Linked DNA regions of Homo sapiens: regions 1 and 2 are each linked to region 3. Evidence: fine-mapped QTL for protein levels in blood plasma. A gene starts in region 3. Each other region holds a variant in brackets. All regions are shown on one strand. Distances are from middle to middle.

Region 1 (2,427 bases), 19 kb before region 3:
ATTCCCCAGTGCCCTCTGGGGTCTCGGCTGCCACCTCCAGCCCCACAGAGTCCCCTCACCTGTACCCGTAGATGCCACAGAAGCGGAGGGCCAGGAGCACAGCGATGGTGAGGAAGATCACGATGAGGGCCAGCACCCACATAGGCAGCACTTCCAGCAGCCGGGGAGAAAGAGGAATGTCAGCATCTGGGCGGGAAATCGACCTCAGGGCAGGGAGTGGGGTTGGTGCAGTATTCC[T/C]TAAGACCCCGCTCTGTGCAGGCCCAGGGCTCTGGAACTTACTGCCTTGGGGGATTAGGGGAGAGAGGCCAGATCCATGCTGGGAAGGGCATTGGTCTGAACCCCCACAGTGTTCAAAGTGCTGGGAGGACACAGGAGGGTCAGATCCTTTCCAGGATCTATAGCACAGGAGGTGCTACAGGGAGGGCAAGAACCACTGTTCATGGCAATCACAGGGGACTTCCTGAAGGAGGTGGCATATTAGCTGGGCCTCCAGTAATAGGAAGGATTAGAGGTGGAGATGGGGAAAGGCATAGTGGCAGAGGCACCAGCAGGAGCAAAGGCCCCTCCAGAGGCCCCTGATCCCACCTGCTGCCCAGCCCTGAGCTCCCAGGCCAGGTTCCTCCAGGACTCCCCTCTTCCTCCTCTCTTGGGCCCATTGGTCCGGCCTCCTTTCTACCTGGTTGTGGCCCTCTCCCTGGGCCCCTGCCGCTACCAAGCCTGGCTGGGGACTTGGGTTGCTCCCAATATCTCCTGTATCCTTACTCTCTCTGAAACCACCCCTTGGACTTGTCTTGTTCTGCGGGAGTCGCCTGGTGGTCACTGTGGTGAAAGGTGAGGGGTCAGTGCACGCAGCAAGTGCAGGGAGGTGGGAAGATGAAGGAATCACAGCAAAACCTTCCAATCCAAGGACCCAGTCTGTGGCTCTAGATTTTCTTGCTTCCATGGTAACAGGAAACTCGGGCTGAGCAACCACAAAAACTTGGTAGTCCCAAAAGCTAAGAAACCAAGGGCCATATTAACAGAAGCCTAAGTCCCAGTTTAAAGGAGGAGCGATCATGAGACCTGCTCTCCTCTGCTCCCTCAAGTCCTCACTTGCAGTCTGTACTGAACACCAGGTGTCACTTTCCAACGACTAGTGGTCCAAGGGAGGGAAGGAGGCCTGAGTGGAGTGGGGTCTGGAGCCCCACATCTCTGTGCCCACCCAGAGATGTGGCATCCTCTGCCCAGCTGTGCTGTCTCATGAAGAGTGGGTGGAGAACTTCTGACTCCACGCCCAGTTTCTGCCTGCTTTACTCTTTGCCTCTTTCAACTTGCGGGTCTGATGACCAGGTGGGAGGTGCTCTCTGCAAAGGCCTTCCCTTTCTCTTTGGCCACCATCTAATCGGGGAGACGGCTCACCTACAAGTTGTTGCAGGCCTGCTACGGCTGCTGCATTGGGGATTTTCTGGCAGTGAGAAACTATGAGCTGGTCCTGGCCAGAAGCTCTGGACTCCAGCCTTCACCTACCCGACTCGGTGTCCCAGGAGCGCGCCTCACTCCACTCGCTCCAGATCCCGTTGTAGCCGGTGCGGGAGGTCCTGACCCTCACCCTGGCCCAGTACCTGGTGGAGGGCTCCAGGGCTGGCAGGGCCATGCTGTGGGCGTTCTGGAGGGTCTCGGTCTTGCTGTCCTGTGGGTTGGCACTGAGGGTGAGGCCTGGCCCGGTGCCCGTGGGAGCAGCTGCAAATCCCTCCCACCTGGACCCTCGGCTTCGCTGGCTCCTAGCTCCTGCCATACCCCAGGCCTGCTGCGGCTTCTCTCTCACCACCGTGGATCCTCCCTGAGGGCCCACCCACGGACAGCACTTCGGATGGCACCGGGGACTCCACCTGTCAGTGCAGCCCCTGACATTGACAACACTGAGGCCCAGAACCCTGAAGCCACCTGTCCCACCCTATTTTGAGCCTTCTCAGCTCCCAGCCCTTCTGGGGCAGCTTGCACCCATATTGTGGCCTTTTTAGGAACGCAGTGCAGGCCGACTGGACTCTGGACCCTGAGAATGGGGGTTCAGGACCCCAGGGCCCGCTCCTGGCTCCACCACTGGCCCACCTCCCTCCTAGCCTCAGTTGCCCCATTTCTAGACTGAAGGTGTGGGGTTGGTTCTGTGGTTTCTGTTCTGGGCTCTGTGGAGGCAGGGGACCGAGCCCTGGCCTGGGCGCACCCCCGACTCATTAGAAGCAGCTCTGTCTGAGCCTCCATGTGTGTCCAGATGAGATTCCTCTGAGGAAATAACCCCAAACTTTCATGACTTTTGAAAACCTTCTTCCCAGTGGCCTTTCAACCCCTCCCTGCCCAGAGGGTCTTCTGTTGCCTGGGGACTCAGGGTCAGCTGTTCACGTTGGCCAAGCCACGCCACTTTTCCAAACCTCAGTTACTTCACCAAGAGAC
Region 2 (5,000 bases), 14 kb before region 3:
AACTTGCCCTAAGGAAAGGCAGCTAAGCAGTGGTAGAGGCAAAGATTGCAATCCCACCAGTGTGATGGGCTCTCTTGTCTGACACTCTCAGAGGTGTAGGGAGTTGACTAAAGGCCAGGACATTCACACGTTCTCATCGCCAGAAAATCCCCAATAAAGCGGCTGTAACAGGCCTTCAACAACATCTAGGTGAGGCCTCTCCCCAGCCAGATAGTGGCCAAAGAGAAAGGGAAGCCCTTTGCAGACAGCACCTCCCACCTGGCCGGCAGACCCACAACTTGAAAGAGGCAAAGGGTAAAGAAAGCAGAAACTGGGCAGGGAGTGAGAAGTTCTGAACTCTAATCTTGATCTGCCTACTAATAGCTGTGCAGCTTTAAGTAAGCCACTCAACCTCTCTGAGCTTCAGTCTACCCAAAAGAAAAAAGAGAATGCTTATAACCTTGATGCCTTCACTGTATAAACATAATATGAATGCCCGTAATTTGCTGAGGTCTCTTATGTGCCAGGCATTATATGAGGCCCTTAATATATCCTGTGCTTTTGAACAATCAGAATTCCTTTTTCCAGTGAGGATCCCAAGAGAGTTAATGGTAAATTCAAACCCAGGTAATTAAGACAAATTGGCCTCTGCCCTTCACATATGCTAAAGACTGGATGGAAGAACTTGGTCATCATGAAACAACGTGAGAGGTTCCATTGCACTGGGGTCCTTGTTACATCACAGAAACGAGGGATGTTAACCTCCAAGGATCAACACTATTTGTACACACCACAGGCTCCAGTTGAAAAGTACATCATAGATCAATTACATTAAAGATAGAATATCAGTCGGTGGGGAATTTCGGATATCAGAAAGAGGAAAATCCAATGAGGAATGAAAGGGAAGGTTTTGGTGACAGGACCAGGAGGGTGTGGCTAGCAGTGGAGATTTAGAGAGCTGCAGGATGGGAGAGGGAAGCAGAAGAAAAGGACAAGAGATCAGAGGTTTTAAAGATCTGCTCCTGTTTTTGGCCACTGCCGTCGTGGTTTCATTGCTTCTCTGTTCACTTTTGGTCACTGGACTGCATCTCTTTGAAAGTGACAAACATGAAGACGGGGCCAGGAGGAACCCTGAACTGATTCGGGTTACACAATGAGGGTGTGCTGGTCCCAGACCATCCCCACAGCGGGCTAGGAGCAAACTCACTGTTCACTGAGCTCTTTATGTGTTTCTCTGCCCTCCTTGGCTGAACAGAGACGATGTATTGGCCGTGGGTCGCGGGGTCGGGCACGGGAATCTGGCAGTGGTGCCTGGTGTGGAGGCTGCCGAGCCCCTCCCTCAGCACTGGGGAGCACTCTTCCTCCCTGAGGAGCACAGCAGAGCTGAGGGCAGGGAGAGGGAGGGCACACGGGAGGGAGGAGAGCTTAGGGTGGGCTGTGGCTTCTGCTGGGGCCCCAGGGACAGGAGGAAGCTTGGAGAGAGCAAGGCCAAGAGGAGGGGAGGGGATGGAGAAAAAAGATGCTCACCCTGCATCTGGGCTGGGCTTGTAGAATAGGCCAAAGGAGACCGAGCTGGCCACCTCCTTCCTCACCTCCCAGGAGCAGCTGAGCACGGCGGCCCCGTCAAAGAAGCACTCCAGGTTCTGGGGCTGGGCCTCATCCCCTGGGTTGGAGACAGGTCCTCATGTACTCCGTCATTCATCCCTCCCATAGCTCTCAGTGGGTGCCCACCGTGTGATTCATCACACAGAGGTCATGAGCTCTGGGGCCAAAAGACCAGGGCTGAAACTTCAGCCTGAACCTGCCAGCTGTGTGTCCAACAGCTCCGAGAGAGAGAGAGAGAGTTCTGTGCACCTGCACGCCCTCCCGGGAGAATGGAAATAGTATCTAAGTTTCAGTGTTTGGGGATTGAACTGAAAAATGTGGGTAAGCCCTGAGCATCCTGTAGCCTCCATTAACACACAGCTGCTAATAGCACTGTTGTTGTTATTATTGTAATTGCCATTGGCAGAGAACGTGCAGAAAACTGGAAACCCAAAGTGAACAGATGCAGAGTCCTACTGGTCAGTGGTCACAGTAGAGGTGGGACGGCCCAGGGACGCTACTGGAAAGATGGCAGCAGGAGATCTGGGAAGCCCCCAGGTGGAGCCCAGGAACCCTGCTGTGCCAGGAGCTCCTGATGAGCCTGCCCTCCCACCACGGGGCATTTCCTGGGCTCTGGCAACATTACCTGGCTGGGAGTCCCA[G/A]CAAACCTCTGGGCTCCACTTGCTGGGACGTCCTGAGAGCCGAGAACCTGGGGCCAGGCGGGTCCGTACTCGGGCCACGTAGGTGCTGCTGGGCATGAGGTGCTCTGGCCCCAGGGTGGCCTGGGAGGTGTTGGAGAGGAGGATGGCTGCGTCCTGTCAGGAGACAGTGGGTGCTGGAGGAGGGGTGCTGCCCATCCCTTCGGGCTGGGGCAGAGCTGGCCGTGGTTCCTACCTCCCAAGAGTCCTGAAGCCGCTTGTAGACCACCTCAAACTCCAGATCCCCTGGGGACAACCAGTGGCTCTGGGGACTCCCAAGGGCCACACTCCAGGTCAGCAGGAAGTGGTCCTGGTCGGTGCTGATCTGCAGGTCCCTGGGCTCAGGAGGCTGGACTGGAGGGGAGGAAGTGAAGGGCACCTAAGGGCTGGACCGCTGGGGGGCAGTCAGGGCCTGCATGGCCTTTTGTGTGGACACAGGGGGTTCCAGGCCACCCCTGCCCCCAGCAGCTGAGGGACCTTGAGCAAGACCCGTCTCCTCTGTGAGCCTCAGCCCTTCATCTGCAAAACTGTAGGGTTTCAACATGAAAGCAATGGAAAGCCGTGCAGATTGCAATGCGCACGTGACCCGAACTCCATAAAAAGCGCTGGCGAGGAAACTCATTGGAGCCTCCTCTGTCCTGAGGCTCCCCACTGCCCACGCTGCGGCCTGGGTGGCTCCTGCTAGCAGAGGGGCCTGCGGTTCAGCGGCCTCCCCCCTCCTGCTGTCCAAGCTCCCTTCCTCCTGCCCAGGGTCCTTCCTGTTGTCAGTGCCCCGGGCAAATGCCTCCGGCTCTAGGAACATCCTCGGATCTGCATCTCCAGGCGGAATCCCTCATTCCTTCTCTCATTTCACCATAGCTCAGTGGAATTCCCTCCACCAGGGCCTTACCACAGCTGAGGGATTCCTATGCTTCTGTGTCTGCCTCCCCTAAGGTGTGAGGAGATGGGGGTGGGTGGGATTGGTCCTGACCCCCTTCCCTACCTCCAGGCTGAGATGCGGCTTCTCAGTGAATTATGGGGCAAGGTGAATGAGTGAATGAATGAACAAATACGCGTAAGCAACTTTGGGGCTTCTCATGAAATCCTTGCAGCCACAAGGCAAGCATCTATCTCCTGGGAACTCTGGGTTGTTCAAGAAAATGCAGAATGAAGACACGGCACCTGATTTCTGGTTTCTGGTGTCTGCTTGCTGAGGGATGGCTTTCAAACGAAAACATCCTCACACATAGGATGTAAGTGCTCTCTGCTGGACATGGGTTATGGCATGCTAGAGCATGTCAGGAACCATCAACCCAGAACGGCAGACACACAGCAGGGGAACCGCCCCTCCTCACCCACAGCCAGGACAGGCGTCCCTCATGGGTCACTGCACTCCCAGCCCCCGAGGCTGTCATGGAGGGGGAGCTCTTCCCGGCAGAGCCCTCTCGGAAGCTGCCACAAACTGCGCAGACTGGGAGCCCCATCAGAAACCTGCTCAGCCAACTCAAGAGAAACCTCTTGAGTCCACCAGCTCATTTCACAGACGGAGAAACTCATAGAGGAAGTAAAATGTCCAAGGTCTCCAAACATGGAGACTCAGAGCAGATCAGATGCATGCCTGTCGCCTGCCCAGTACCTCCCAGCATCCTTGATTCATTGCTAATCTGCATTAGGCTGGACCCTACCTCGCTACTCAACACAGGCTCCAGGAGGCCAAGGGCCACACTTCTCTCCCTATATCTAAGTTGTCTCCATCGCCTTAGAAACCTTCCTTGTTTCCAGGCTGTAAGCTCCAAGGGCAGGGTTGCTGGCTGGTTTGTTGACTGCTTCGTTGGCTTATGTAGGCGCTCAAGGAAAGAAGGTTGAATGAATGAATTGTGTGTATATCTGAACTATGATTTGCATGCCCTCATGTCCCCATCTCCTAGCCAGTTGTGTCCTCATCATTTCTAGGAATGAGTGCTTTAGGCCACAGCCTGAATTTCAACTTCTTTCCCAACTAATGCTCCTCCAATCTACCCTGTAAGTCCCCTGTCCCCAGCATTCTCACATCCACATCTGATCATGTCATTTCCCCTCAGTGCTCTCCATGCCTAGAGGGTCCCCTCTACCTGAGACTGCAGGAGACAGAAGCCTCTCCAGGGACAGGTCCTTACCTGTGTCTCCTGCTTCTTCCCACCGCTGTCCAGCCCTTGAAGCTGATGCTCCCTGGACACAATGGTGAGCAGGTTCCCCAGCTGCCCATGCCCTTCTGATCCCCCAGCCTCTGCACAGCTGTTACCCTGCCAGAGAGGCTCTTACTGCCCTCCCCTCCTGTCTACCCTTCAGATCTGAGTTGCAAAGCTCTTCCCTCTGGGAAGCCTGTTCTGATCTCCCAGGGGCCCTGCCCTTTACCCCCTGCATGAGGCACCCACCCGCCACTGTCAGTAAGTTCTCACGGTGGACGGCATACAGTGTTTCCCCTCCCTCCAGCCTGGGCCCCCTGAGCTCCATTCGGGAAGGAAGGGACTCTCGTGTCCATCAAACCCATGTGTGGAAATGTTGCTTCTGATGGACTCCTGGTGGCCTAACTGATCCCCTCCTCTGGCAGTGGCTTTATGATGTTGTGGCAAAAAAGGGCAGGAAGCCATGGTCAGAGCCCCTTCCGTGTGACCCTTGCAAAGAGCACCAGGTGGTTCGGTGGTTAGGACCGGGGACTCAGACCATCCTGCACTGGATCTCAGCTCTGCCAGCAGCAGTAGAGAGGCCTTGGACTAGTCA
Region 3 (8,392 bases):
AATGTCAAAACAGCGCACATCTATTCTGACATATGCTAACCCAGCAGACACTTCTACAGACATGTACAGATACAGCAAAAATAAAAGAGTACATTAAGACATCTAAATCAGCATCCTCAGGGAGATTTGAGAATCATAGCCATTTAAAAGAAGACACTTCTATGCAAAGAACAGAGTTCTTGGAATTTGAAGATATGAGATCCATAATTTAAAAAAAAATCAATCAAAGCCTGGGCGCGGTGGCTCACGCCTGTAATCCCAGCACTTTGGGAGGCCAAGGTGGGCAGATCACTTGAGGTCAGGAGTTTGAGACCAGCCTGGCCAACGTGGTAGAACCCCGTCTTTACTAAAAACGCAAAAAAAAAAAAAAATAGCTGGCCATGGTGGCGCACGTCTGTAATCCCAACTATTCTGGAGGCTGAGGCAGGAGAATTGCTTGAACCTGGGAGGTGGAGGTTGCAGTGAGCTGAGACCGTTGCCATGGCACTCCAGCCTGAGACTCTGTCTCAAAAAAACAAACAAACAAAAAAACAACAACAATCAATAGTGGGCCAAACCACAGAATGGATACCACAAATGAAAAAGATAGATATATAAAATAGAGCAAATAGTCAAGGAGATGAAAAGTCTTAGAGAAAACTTTAGGTTTGGGAAAGAAATTCAAAAATTCCAGCATTCAGAAGCAGGGGGTGGAGAGAATTAAGAGCAGGTATGGCAGACAATGTCAGCTACCTAGTCTGAAAGACAATGGAAGACCGTGTCCCTTTCCTCCTGGCAACAGAAGCCAAGGTTTTAGCTGAGTTTATTGCTACACAGAATAAAAAGGTCTATTTCCTTCCTATACTCCGTTGCCACTAGGTGCAGTCAAGTGACTAAACGTGATCCAAGGAGATGAGAATAGAAACATTGTGTATGTCTTCCAAAAAAGGCTGCTCAATGGCAGTTGACTTAGGTGGGAGGGGTTCATTTTTGTCCCTCTGTCTTTCTTCCTTCTTCCAGCCTGCAACTTGGAGGTGATAGCTGGAGCTTCAGCAGCTATTTTGGACCATGAGGTTACCTTGAGGATGGAAGCCATATGTGAAGATGATGCAACAGAAAGAGAGGAAGCTGGATTCCCACTCTCACTCTGGAGCAACCATACTAGCCTGAAACTGCTACCTCTGGGCATCTTTTATATGCTGGGAAAAAGAAACTTCTATGTTGTTAAGCCTCTGTTGCTTAGGGATTTTCCATGTGCAGCCAAACAGATACAACAGCAAATGGGGAAAGCTTCACAGGGCTTTCAAGGAGACAAGAGGCCACTCAATAAAGAACAAGACTCCTTTTTAAAATATTTTTCAAAGACAGTAAGGAATCTGTATTCAAGGGGGGAGGCTACTACGATGAGGTTTTGTAGTAGGGGACAGAGATCAGGGTTAACTCCCAAGATTCCTTTTAATAAAGCCATGCCTAGTTCTCACTGGTAAACTTTTCGTCTTGCAAGAATATGAGGATGATCCCAGAAATGCTTCCAGAAGAAAACAAATAGGATACTTTGAATGCAACAAGGGTCAGATTGGCTAAAGATTTCACATAAGAGACTCTGAACTTTAAATAGATGTCTTGAAAATACCAAGGGAAAATTATGCTTAAACCTAGAATCACAAAATGCCAAGTTTTCTTTGACATTTAAAGGACACAAAAAATTTTGAGTATGTAAGGACAAAGAAAGTTTTTCAGATCTTTTCTGAAAGAAATTACTCTAGGTTATATTTCAGGAAAAAAAAATCCAAGAAAGCTGAAATACTGAGGTAAATAAACCTGTAACACTTACAGATAAGTTAAAGAAGAATATTGAACTAAAACTCAGATGATTTTAATGTGGGAGTTTGCTGTGAGGCTGGGGTGGAGAATGGAAGAGAACTGAAAACTTGCTAAAGATCTCCTCTTGTTTTGGAAGATCATATATGTGCTAAATAAACCCAAATGCTGGTAGCAAATATGGTTTCTTTAAAAAAAATACTATTTTTTTTTTTTGAGACAGAATCTCACCCCATCACCCAGGCTGGAGTGCAATGGCATGATCTCGGCTCACTGCAATCTCTGCCTCCGGGGTTCAAGCGACTCTTGTGACTTAGCCTCCCAAGTAGCTGGGACTACAGGCATGCACCACCACGCCTGGCTAGTTTTTGTATCTTTAGTAGAGGCTGGGTTTCACCATGTTGGCCAGGTTGGTCTCAACTCCTGGCCTCAAGTGATCTGCCCACCTTGGCCTCCCAAAGTGCTGGGATTACAGGCGTGAGCCACTGTGCCCGACCCAGAAAATATAAGTTCAATACATTTTAAATCCCTAAAAACATAAAGATTAAAAATCACTAAGAATGAAGAGTAAGCATGGGGACAGGAGGATGACAGAGAAGGGATGGGAGGGACAGAGAAAGGAAGAGAGAGAAAAGAGAAGAGAAAAACCAAACACCTTCTTACTCAAAATAAACATGCACATATTACATTCCCAAGCTCATGAAGAAATTGAATGGCAGGGATAAACATTCCCAAGCTTATGAAGAAATTGAATGGCAGGGATAAAAACTAGGGGGGAAAAGCAAAATACAAATTCACTCCAGACAAAAACAATTTCATAGGTCAACCTGACAAAGACTTTTAAAAGAAGAAGACATCATGGCCAAGTAGAGGGTACTCCATACATGGAAGGAGAACCCTTAAGAAACCTATTTATGATTCAAACAAACAGATGAACGGATTAAAAGGGAAAAAAGGATAAGCTGATCTTGACAGACACTCCTAAATATTTAATAATAAACAAGACATTTCTGGTTAAATGAACAAACAAACCCTGGCAAATGAAGCAGTGGCGGAAACGTTGGCATCACTGAAAGTCTGCCAGAAACCAAAGGCGATGACAGAGTCAAGGGGGCACGTTAGTGTCCTCCTGTCAAAGCCTCACACAGGAGGCTCTCACTATTGTCTTTACTTCCAGTGGTCAATGTCCCTCAGATCATCTCTAAATTCAATGCAATCAACATGAAAATTCCAAAAAGGAATTTAATGGGCTTGGCAAACTGATTTTTATTTTTATTTTTGAGTTGGAGTCTCACTCTGTTGCCCAGGCTGGAGTGCAGTGGCGTGATCTCGGCTCACTGCAAACTTTGCCTCCTGGGTTCAAGCAGTTCTCCCACTTCAGCATCCCAAGTAGCTGGGATTACAGGTGCACACCACCAAACCCGGCTAATTTTTCGTATTTTTAGTAGACATGGGGTTTCACCGTGTTGGCCAGGCTGGTCTTGAACGTCCAACTTCAAGGGATCTGCCTGCCTCAGCCTCCCAAAGTGCTGGGATTATAGGCATGAGCCACTGTGCCTGGCCTTGGCAAACTGATTCTAAATTATAACAAACCAGAGATGAGAGACTTGCTCCATTCGTTAGAAAAATAATAAGGAATGTAGTGACAGCCAAATGGAAGAGAAAACAATAAAGAAAATAACGAAGTATGTATAGAAGCCTAGGATGTAATAGGGGCACTTCAAATCATTGAAGAGAGGAGAAATCACACACTCATAATTAGCAATGTTAAGACAATTAGATGGTAATTATTTTTAAAAGTTACTTTACACATTACTCACTTCTCTAAATTCTAGGTGGGCTAAAAATCTCAAAGTCAAAACCAAAATAGTAAAATTATTAAAACTCTTTCTGTAATCTTAGAGGTTTCAAGACACCAAACCAGAAACCATAAAGTAAAAAGAGGTTTACAAGACACCTGTGATCTTAGAGGTTTACAAGACACCAAAATCAGAAACCATAAAGTAAAAAGTAATGACAGGTTTGACTTAACAATGAAAACATTTTTATATGACATAAGACATCTTAAACATGGTAAAGAAAAAGATAAGTCATAACCTGGGAGAATATATTTTCAACATATATAAATGGATTATTAATACACGTAATAAATGAGTCACTCCAAAAGTTAAGATGTAAAAGAGAATTCAACAGGAGATGAACAAAAATTTCTCCACATTCATCATAAATGAAATCCAAAAGGCCAATCCACATATAGAAAATGTACAACTTCACCCATAATCAGGGAAAGAAAAAAATCACGCGACATTGAGAATTTCCATACATAATATTGGACAAAATTAGAAGATTGATAATTTCTCTAAAGGTAAATTGGACCCTTTATGCACTACCTTGGGGACGTCAGCTTAGCTCAGCTACTTTGAGGCTGATTTGACAATACCTATTATAATTTCTAACGCACAACCTCTGCACAGCAATTCTGCATTTAGTAATTTAGGCTACAGAAACACTTTCACAGATGTGGAAAAATTAGAAACAATCTAGGTGTCGATCAACGTGAGATTAGATGAATTGTGGTGTACCCATCCTAATAAATGCCACATATTTCTTAGGGTTACTTAACGAGTTAAATCTGTATGTATTATTGTAGAAATTTGGAAATATTCCAAAATACAATATTAAGTGAAAAAATTAGGAATATATATATATATATATAAATAAAATAATCCCATTTCTGTAAAAAGAAAAACTACCATCCTGGCACAGTGGCTCAAGCCTGTAATCCCAGCATTTTGGGAGGCTGAGACAGGCGGATCATCTGAGGTCAGGAGTTCGAGACCAGCCTGGCCAATATGGTGAAACCCTGTCTCTACTAAAAATACAAAAATTAGCCACGTGTGGTGGCTCATGCCTGTAATCCCGGCTACTCAGGAGGCTGAGGCAGGAGAATCACCTGAACCCGGGAGGCAGAGGTTGCAGTGAGCCAAGATTGCACCACTGCATTCCAGCCTGGGCGACAAGAGTAAAACTCTGTCACAAAAACAAAACAAAACAAAACAAAAAACAAACAGGAAAAGAAAAACTATATGCTTGTATCATGCTTAGAAAATGTTCTGGAAGAATACATGTGGTGAAAAGAATAAGCTATGGAACTAGGGAAAAGAAATTGCTGGGGACTTTGTCTCTTGTGCTACATAATTCTAGATTATTCTAATTTTCATGAAGGTAGGTTTCTGTGTAGTTGCTTGTTTAGCATTAAATACATTCCTTATACAACTCATGAATTATCCTGTGGTGTTGGTATATCTGTATACTGGAACAATATAAATAAAACTGCTGGATGAAAAAAAGAGTGACCAAAAGCTAATAGGAAATGTTTACTCATTATAAAATGATTACAAAGCAGGAAAGATGATAGAAAAAAATTAGAATTGGGCTGTACAAAAATATAACAGCAGGGTTTTTGAAGACTAAAAATTGCACATATGCAGCTTGTCGCTAGCACCTGTCTGACAAGGTCCCAGTGAAACACCTGCCCTTTCATTCTCAGGGCCAGTACACACACCTGCACACACCCTGAAGCAGGCACCCCAGATACCCACCCACCCAGCCAGCATACTTGGGTACAGAACACACACACCTGGGCCCCAACCCAAATCAGCAACCCAAATCAGCAGGGCAGAGTGTCATAACTAAAAAGACAGACAGACAGAGAGAGAGACTGAGAGAGAGAGAGAGAGAGAGAGAGATTGCTGGATAGTGCCTGGTATGTCTCTGGGCAAAGTGCTGGGCTCTTTCTCAAGTTCAAAGTGAGCTTCTCAAGCCACACCGCACCCAGCTCTGGGCCTCAGCGCAGCAAGCTTCCAGGTTTCACCCTCTGCCTCTTAGTCTCTCTGCACTCCTGCATCCCCAGACATCCGCACATGCACATACACACACAGGCACACACACAAATGCACACACGGGCAAACACACGAGCATGCGTTCTCTCTCTTTCTAAACCAAGATGTCAGGGACTATCCATGCTCCCCATTCCACAGATGAGGAGACAGAAGCCCAGGGTGGACAGGGGGTGCTCTCACTACCACCAGCATCTTAGTGACAAAGCGAAGACAGACTATAGGTGCCTGACTCCCAGGCCTGAGCTCTCTTCACCCCACTAGGCGTCCTTCCCACCAGGACCAACCAGATCCCGCTAGCGAGGCTGAGTCCTCCCCAGAGCTCTCCTACAACACCCAAGCAGCTTGGCACCCCTGGCTGCCTCCCCATCCACTGGCCGCCCTAGGAGTCTGGGCTCAGGTCATCCTAAGAGGCCAAGCCCTAACTCCTCCAAGTCCCCAGGGCACAGCTACCCACAGGACGCCCCCCAGGCTCCCCCTGTCCTTTTTCATCCTGGACTCCCCACATTCCCCCCTGCTCTGACCCCACCCCTCAGCCCTGCTCCTGGACGCCGGGCCATACCTCTGTGTGGTGGGAGAGACCAGTCTTCTTCTGGAGCCTCTAGGCAGAGTGAGCCTCCCACGTTTCCTATTTATGTTGATGTCATCAGGAAACAGAGAAGCAGAAAGAGGAAGCAGTGCCGGCCCAGGCCTACTTTGCTAATAGTGCACGTGACTTTTCTTACTTCCAGAAAGCCTCCTACTCCAATTTACCTTCCTATAAACTCCTAGGCCTCCTTCAAGCCTCAGCTGACGCAGGGCCTCCTCCATGCAGCCTTCCCTGACTGCTTGATGGGGATGCAGGTGGAAGTGGCTGCAATAACCATAGCTGGTTTGAGCCCAGAGCCAGACAGATCTGTGTTGGACTTCCAAGTCCACTGCTTCTTAAAGCGTGTCCTTGTGCAAATCATCTGCGTGTTACTTCCCCAAGCCTCGGGACATCCATCTGTCTGTTACTTTTGCAGAAGCATCTACAAACCTGGAAGGACTGTTGAGGGAATCCAGTGAGATTCTGTGCAGGAAGACCTTAGCTCAGAGCTGGCCACAGGAGAACCCCCTACAAGTGGTAGCTGGTGGCATGTTGATTTCCCCGATGTCCTCTTTGCCCTGCCGCCCCACCCCACCATGTGTCATATGGTCATGTGTGTTCATGGCTGTCTTTCTTCTGACACTATCTTCAGTGCTGGCTTGTGTCCGGCTTGCACTTCCCTCCCAAATACCTAGCACATGGCCTGGTACAGAGGAGAAATTGCACCTTTGACTGTGTGCAAATGAATAGATGAATGAATGAATGAATGAATGAATGAATGAATGAATGAGTGGCTCCCTGAGCACAGCAGGGCCAGCAGAATTAAGGTCAGGTGAGTGAGGCAGTCTCTCGTGCTCAAAATTTAAACAGGCATTTAAAAATTCAGTAATTGTTGTAAGTAATATTTTAATGCAATATGGTTTAAAAAAATCCCAACTGATGCAGAAACTATTCACGGTGAACCAAATATGAAAAGTTTGAATAAAGACAAGATGAATCACAGTGCCAAGACACAACAAAACGCAGTCATATTTCTCCTACATGGGGCTGCCTCCCAGGAGAAAGGGCAGCAGGCAGGAATGAGGGGAATGGAGGGCAAGAATGAGGGGAATGGAGGAAATGGAGGGGCAGGAACCTGCCTCGAAGCCACTGGAATTCTGGCCTGATTGTTGTTCTTTGCTTTCCTCCTACCAGGAAGGGCAGGGTTGGCCAGGAAGAGCTGGCAGGGCCTCACCCTAGCAGAGAAAGCCCAGGGTAGAGGAAGGCATGTGTGGTTCTCTCAGGCACTCCGGTCAGTGTGAGGTCCCTGCCTGGCATGGAAAAACCCTGCAGGGGCTTCTCCAGGGCTGGAGAGGATGGAATTAAAGTGACGTCCCGGGCTCTCTTTTCTCCCAGGTGTCCCCACTCTGCCTGTCTTTGCTGAGGTCCTCTGTGGGACTGGGAGGCTGCGGGCCTGGATGCCCTCAGGAGCACAGAGGATGCTGTCTGGTGGAGAAACGAAGAACCCGAGACTCTGAGTCAAAATCACTCCGGACACCAGACCCAAAATGTGAAGGAGCTTTAGGAACACCTCAGCCAATTCACTTGACTGACCCTTTCCTTTTAAAAGTCATCATAGAGCAGCAGGGGATAAAAATCTACATTTGAATGAGTCTAACAGAGTTCTCTCAATAAGTATTAAAAGTTCTAAGCGAGAAGAATCACACCGTCAGGAATTCATTGAATGTTTTCGTTTGTTTGTTTGTTTTTTCCTTCAGTGGTATGTAAAATACCGTGTCTTGCAATTGACGATCTTTTAGAGACTAAGAAACCCAAGAAAATGTTGGCAAGAACGTAGTACTCATAATGACCAGGGCTTGAGCATTTACGCTGTGAGCAGACCTTCGGCTGGGGGCTTCTCCATCTCTTCCCAATAACCTTTATGTAGCTGTTACTGTCTTCACCTTACAGATGAAGAAATTGAGGCATGAAAAGGAAGATAACTTGTTGAAAGTAGTAACTCGTATATGTTAACATTGCATTTTTTTCCATTTCCATTTTTATTCTGAAACTATTTCAAAATACAGAGCGTTAAAGGAATGATACAAAGAACTCTCACATACCCTTCATGTGGAAACCCCCTTTG

Which allele goes with the higher level. Alleles are on the strand shown, and positions count from the first base shown. The strength of an association depends on the size of the effect and on how common the allele is.
As copies of C replace T in region 1, the plasma level of the protein whose gene starts at base 6,311 in region 3 goes down (strong association).
With allele G in place of A in region 2, the plasma level of the protein whose gene starts at base 6,311 in region 3 is lower (weak association).

What was found. PIP is the chance, under the fine-mapping model, that this variant and not a neighbour inherited with it causes the effect. Protein levels are from antibody-based Olink assays in UK Biobank. Linkage for the fine-mapping came from a reference panel and not from the study's own genotypes, which makes the PIPs less certain.
Region 1: its variant is fine-mapped to the plasma level of the CSF2RB protein (UK Biobank, PIP above 0.99).
Region 2: its variant is fine-mapped to the plasma level of the CSF2RB protein (UK Biobank, PIP above 0.99). The variant lies in the coding sequence of CSF2RB. If it changes the protein, the assay may bind it differently, which can mimic a change of level.

What each region holds. Positions count from the first base shown.
Region 1 is chr22:36,933,074-36,935,500 of GRCh38, reverse strand. It overlaps CSF2RB (colony stimulating factor 2 receptor subunit beta), which reads right to left. Exons shown (of 14, transcript NM_000395.3): 10 at 1,507-1,669; 11 at 60-150. Among named protein-coding and RNA genes, the nearest start is that of CSF2RB, 21 kb to the right of the region's middle. The variant T/C (reference allele first, on the strand shown) is at 238.
Region 2 is chr22:36,927,017-36,932,016 of GRCh38, reverse strand. It overlaps CSF2RB (colony stimulating factor 2 receptor subunit beta), which reads right to left. Exons shown (of 14, transcript NM_000395.3): 5 at 2,458-2,615; 6 at 2,210-2,378; 7 at 1,507-1,642; 8 at 1,187-1,344. Among named protein-coding and RNA genes, the nearest start is that of CSF2RB, 16 kb to the right of the region's middle. The variant G/A (reference allele first, on the strand shown) is at 2,226.
Region 3 is chr22:36,911,547-36,919,938 of GRCh38, reverse strand. CSF2RB (colony stimulating factor 2 receptor subunit beta) reads right to left here and starts at 6,311. Exons shown (of 14, transcript NM_000395.3): 1 at 6,262-6,311. LOC105373023 (a long non-coding RNA gene) reads left to right here. Exons shown (of 2, transcript XR_938230.2): 2 at 1,000-1,467. RefSeq lists an enhancer at 7,777-8,392.